Regions from separate parts of the Homo sapiens genome. Here region 2 is linked to region 1. A link means that fine-mapping ties the variant in region 1 to the expression of a gene that starts in the linked region. Tissue or cell type: blood mononuclear cells. Region 1 holds a variant in brackets; the other region holds the start of a gene. All regions are shown on one strand. Distances are from middle to middle.

The links. PIP is the estimated chance that this variant, and not a neighbour inherited with it, causes the effect.
Region 2: it holds the start of TRAPPC6B, and the variant in region 1 is fine-mapped to the expression of TRAPPC6B in blood mononuclear cells (TOPMed, PIP above 0.99).

What each region holds. Positions count from the first base shown.
Region 1 is chr14:39,193,868-39,196,629 of GRCh38, forward strand. No RefSeq gene overlaps it. Among named protein-coding and RNA genes, the nearest start is that of PNN-AS1, 19 kb to the left of the region's middle. The variant A/G (reference allele first, on the strand shown) is at 1,288.
Region 2 is chr14:39,169,212-39,171,973 of GRCh38, forward strand. It overlaps TRAPPC6B (trafficking protein particle complex subunit 6B), which reads right to left and starts at 1,122. Exons shown (of 6, transcript NM_001079537.2): 1 at 804-1,122. The coding sequence starts at 884. RefSeq lists enhancers at 580-1,169, 929-978, 1,760-2,349.

The DNA.
Region 1 (2,762 bases):
ATCCGCCCACCTCGGCCTCCCAAAGTGCTGGGATTACAGGCGTGAGCCACCGTGCCCGACCTGTTCTAAGTATTTTTGAATCTATCTTTCACATTTTTATGTCTCTCTATTCTGAATTCTGTATAATTTCTTTATATAAATTTTCTAGTTAATTAATTTATGTCATAGAATTGCACGTGTTTCCCCTCAATGAATATTCAAACCACTGTTATTTTATTTTGTTTACATATATATGTGTACACACCTCCTCACATATGGAATCTGCCATTTAATCCCAGCACTTTGGGAGGACAAGGCGGGCAGATCACCTCAGGTCAGGAGTTTGAGACCAGCCTGGCCCACATGGTGAAACCCCATCTCTACTAAAAATAGAAAAATTAGCCAGGTGTAGTGGTGCAAGCCTGTAGCCCCAGCTACTTGGGAGGCTGAGGTGGTAGAAACACTTGACCCAGGAGGTGGAGGTTGCAGTGAGCCAAGATCATGCCACTGCACTCCAGCCTGAGCGACAGAGACCACATCTCAAAAAAAACAAAACAAAACAACAACAACAAAAAAAACCCTCCAATTAAAAATATAGAAAACTCGGCCGGGCGCGGTGGCTCACGCCTGTTATCCCAGCACTTTGGGAGGCCGAGGCGGGTGGATCACGAGGTCAGGAGATCGAGACCATCCTGGCTAACACAGTGAAACCCCGTCTCTACTAAAAATACAAAAAATTAGCCGGGCGAGGTAGCGGGCGCCTGTAGTCCCAGCTACTCGGGAGGCTGAGGCAGGAGAATGGCGTGAACCCCGGGGGGCGGAGCCTGCAGTGAGCCGAGATCGCGCCACTGCACTCCAGCCTGGGTGACAGAGAGACTCCGTCTCAAAAAAAAAAAAAAAAAAAAAAAAAAAAAAAAAAAAAAAAATATATATATATATATATATATATATATATATATATATAGAAAACTCTTTAGAAGCAAAAGTTTTGATGAGAGGTATTCTTGGAAAATGTTACACAAGCTGGGTGTACATTTCAAGTGCACAGTAGCCTCAGTGCCGCTACTACTCTTGAAGTTTTGCTTGTAGTAGATTTGGCTAGAACTATGCATTTTTCCTAGTTAACTCCAAGTTCACTGAAAATTTCATGTATCTTGTTAAAAATGTATTTTCTTTGCAAATTAATGTCTTCTCAGTTATAAGTTTAAATATGACAAAGAATAAGCAAAATAAGTCAATACAATTTGTAATTCACCTTCTAATACCATCATGTTGGGGGTTGGAATTTCAACATATGAATTTGGGAGA[A/G]ACACAGATATTCAGACCATAGCAAAGTCGTAATTCATTAGTATGTAATTTTTTCAAACAGAATTCACTTTATCTCTACTTGTCATCCAGTTAAAACATTTTACTATGTAATATTTCAGACAAGAAAAAATAGCCAAAATTATAGCAAATACTTATGAACCTTATCATCTAGTGAAATAAATAAAATGTGATAAAAAATTAAAGTATCCTCTAATTTTATTTAGTGTGTTCATTTCCCTTCCCCCAACCACCCAGAGTCAATTATGTTTTCTTATGTCTTTGAGTATATTAAATCCATCACTTTATAATGTCTTTCAATAAGAGCACTTTTCTCATCTTGCCTAAATTAATTAATTACTCTCAGAGCTTAACCAAATTTTCTCCAATATTATGTGAGCTTCACCTTTACTCTCCGGCAATTTTTTTTGCGGGGGCGGAGACAGAGTTTTGCTCTGTCTCTCGGGCTGGAGTGCAATGGCAAGATCTTGGCTCACTGCAACCTCTGCCTCCTGGGTTCAAACGATTCTCCTGCCTCAGCCTCTCAAGTAGCTGGGATTTCCGCCACCACTCCTGGCCAATTTTTTTTTTTTTTGAGACGGAATCTCACTCTGTCGCCCAGTCTGGAGTGCAGTGGCGCGATCTTGGCTCACTGCAAACTCTGCCGCCCAGTTTCAAGTGATTCTCCTGGCTCAGCCTCCCAAGTAGCTGGGATTACAAGCGCCTGCCACTGCGCCTGGCTAATTTTTGAAGTTTTAATAGAGAGGGTTTCACCATCTTGGCCAGACTGGTCTTGAACTCCTGACCTCATGATCCACCCATCTCAGCCTACCAAAGTGCTGGGATTACAGGCGTGAGCCACCGCGCCCAGCCCACTCCTGGCTAATTTTTATGTTTTTAGTAGAGACGGGGGTTTCACCACGTTGGCCAGGCTGGTCTTGAACTCCTGATCTCAAGTGTTCTGCCCACCTCAGCCTCCCAAAGTGCTGGGATTACAGGCATGAGCCACCTGGCCTGGCCTACTCTCAAGCCTATTCTCAAGCAATTTTGAAACTGACCTTAAAAGCAAGTTTGAAGCAGTTATTTCTGGATATTTTATTTTAAATCGTGTATGTTTTTGCTTTAAAAAATGTTTCGGTTGGGTGTGGTGGCTCATGTCTGTAATCTCAGCACTTTGGGAGTCCAAGTCAAGCTGATCGCTTGAGTTCAGGAGTCAAGACTAGCGTGGGCAACATAGTGAAACCCTGTCTCAAAAAAAAAAAAAAAAAAATTTGCCGGGTGTGGTGGTACGCACCTAAAGTCCCAGCTACCTGGGAGGCTGAGGTAGGAGGATCGCTTGAGCCCAGAAGGTCAAGGCAGCAGTGAGCCATGATCGCACCACTGCACTCCAGCCTGGGTGACAGAGCAAGACCCTGTCTCAAAAAAATTTTTTTTCATTGTTTTGTATAAAAGAAAAACTGTAAAATAGACATTCACTT
Region 2 (2,762 bases), 25 kb before region 1:
TCAGTGTTAACTATTCATTAAATCACTATTCCCTAAATACTGTGAGGCAGGAGTATTATTTTATTTAATTTATCTAGCAGTGTCAGCAGTGACAGGCCCACAATGATTGAATAAGGACTCCCACATATTAGAAGTAACCGCTACATACTATCACATTTCGGATTAAATTAGATTAAAAAAAAATCTCTACAAGGATGGGGCCATTGTTTCATTCACTACTATATCCCTGGCACCTAGAAATCGCTCTGACATAAGGGCACTAAATAAATACTTTCTGAAATAATTAATTTAAATTATGTTCCCTAATTATCCTAACGCCTGCAAACTTTCCTTTGCAAACTCAACCTTCATTAGGCTTCAGGTCTCAAGTTGTGTGGAGTTGTACTGAGCATTAGGAATGAGGAAGGAGGGACAGGCTTCTCAGGTTGGCACAGGTCTGTCCAGTGCATGGCTCAAGTGCTGGAAGTGCCAGCAAAACTAAGTAGGCTCTGCAGTTAACCCTCTCGTAAATAATGGCAGGGACAACACTAAAAGTACCAAAATCTGTGGCGTGCAAGACAAACGTACGGGAATAGACAAAAGAGAATCAAATAGAAGAAGATACGAAAGAGAAAACGATGAAAGATGACGGTTCAAAGGAGACAACTGACAGGTTCTAGGGTTTAGGACACCTGGAGGTGGACCATTTTGTGTACACCTCGGGAGGCGTCGGGTGGCGATGGGACAGGGGTTGAAGGAAAGCACTGAGGGGAAACAAGGTGTGTCACCGCAAAAGGACCTCAAGGTTGTGTGGCAGCACTCACCACCTCCCCCTGCTCCGCGGACTTGTACACTCCAGACACCATCTCGTTATGGAGAAGCAAAAACAACGCCTCATCCGCCATTTCCTGCTAATTCTTCCAAGCTTCGAGTTTTGGCTCCCGTTTGAGCTGGTCTGGGGGTTCCAGCTCGCGCCTCAGCGACTTCGCCGGCGCCGCGGCTCCGTCAGGCCGCCATTCTATCCCTGTGGCTAAGAGACCGAGGTATTCACACGACTTCCCAAAGGCTGGTACTGAAATGAGTCTGGTACTGGAGAGAGCCCACACTTCGGGGCTACCAAATCCTAGGGCCGAACTAAAGTCTGACGGGAGCTCTAACCAAAGCCAACCAGCTGAGATGCGATCCGGCCGCTGGGCGGGGGCGAAAAAAACAACTTCCGGTCCCCTCTACCCCGGCATTCGGCCAGCTCTATGATCACTGAGTTCCTCTCTCCCAAGCCCGGAGAGGCCAGCGCCCAGATATGAGGAAGGTTCCCCTCTCACCACGATGTCGGGGGCAGAGCAAGATAAAATAAGACCTAAAGCTCCCGCCTGGCCCGGGCGCGGTGGCTCACGCCTGTAATCCCAGCACTTTGGGTGGCGGAGGCGGGTGGATCACATGAGGTCGGAAGTTCGAACCAGCCTGAGAAACCCCGTCTCTACTATAAGTACAAAATTAGCGGGGCCTGGTGGTGCATGCCTGTAATCCCAGCTACTCGGGAGTCTGAGGCAGGAGAATCGCTTGAACTCGGGAGGCGGAGGTTGCGGTGAGCTGAGATCGCGCCACTGCACTCCAGCCTGGGCAACAAGAGTGAAACTCCGTCTCAAAAAAAAAAAAAAAAAAAGAGCTCCCGCGGCCACCTCCTTGTTAATTAGCAATAGAAGTTAAAAAAATTCTTTTGGCTTCATCAAAAGCATCCACTTCCTGCCATATGTTCTTCAAATATGAAAAGTTGTAGAAAGAGTTTAAAATATACGTTTTCACAGTGCAAATTTTTTAAATATTGAAAAGTTATCCCAATTCCTATTGAATTAAGCCCGGGTATACAAAAAGAATTAGAGCCATTTTGACCACCAGGAATTTTCCTGTTAGTGGGGTGCAAGGGACAAGGGAAGTGGAGCAAACGAAAAACAAGATACACTTGAACCGGAAAATACAGACTAATCAGAGGATTAGGTGAAAAGTGCTATAGAATTCAGAAAAGCGATGTCACTGCAGGATGGAGTTGCTAATAATCTACAGCAGTGTGAGACAACTGTAGGAATTGTCCCACTGCATGTGCAAATAAATACACATGCTACATCATAGTATGTACATCTTAAATTTGGCAAATTCAACCGTAAGCATGTTGCTTAGCCTGTGATTAGTTCTTCCATTGGTAATTCACAAAACAAAATTTTTCCCCAATTGTCCCTGTTGTTTTCCCCCAAATTAACATACCGCAAGGTGGCTCATGCCTGTAAAATCCAGCACTTTGGGAGGCCGAGGCACGGGGGGTGGGGGGGATCACGAGGTCATGAGTTTTGAGAGCAGCCTGGCCAACATGGTGAAAACCCGTCTCCACTAAAAATACAAAAATTAGCCGGGCGTGGTGACAGGTGCCTGTAATCCCAGCTACTCGGGGGGCTGAGGCAGGAGAATCACTTGAACCTGGGAGGCAGAGGTTGCAGCGAGCAGAAATTGTGCCACTGCACTCCAGCCTGGGCGACAGAGCAAGACTTCGTCTCAAAAAACGAAACACACACACAAACTCTTCATGCCCTTTCACAGGAATTTAAGATCATGTTCCAAAATTTTAATTGTGGTAGGTTTTTTTTTTAAGCATGTCCCTTCTAATGTTTGAATCAGTTTATTCCATTCATCACGTAAATCCAGCATAAAAGCTCCACTTAAGCCTTTGAAAACACTAAATTGTGTAATTTTGAAGAGTATTTTGCCATGGTAATCTTAATTTTTCCAGCACT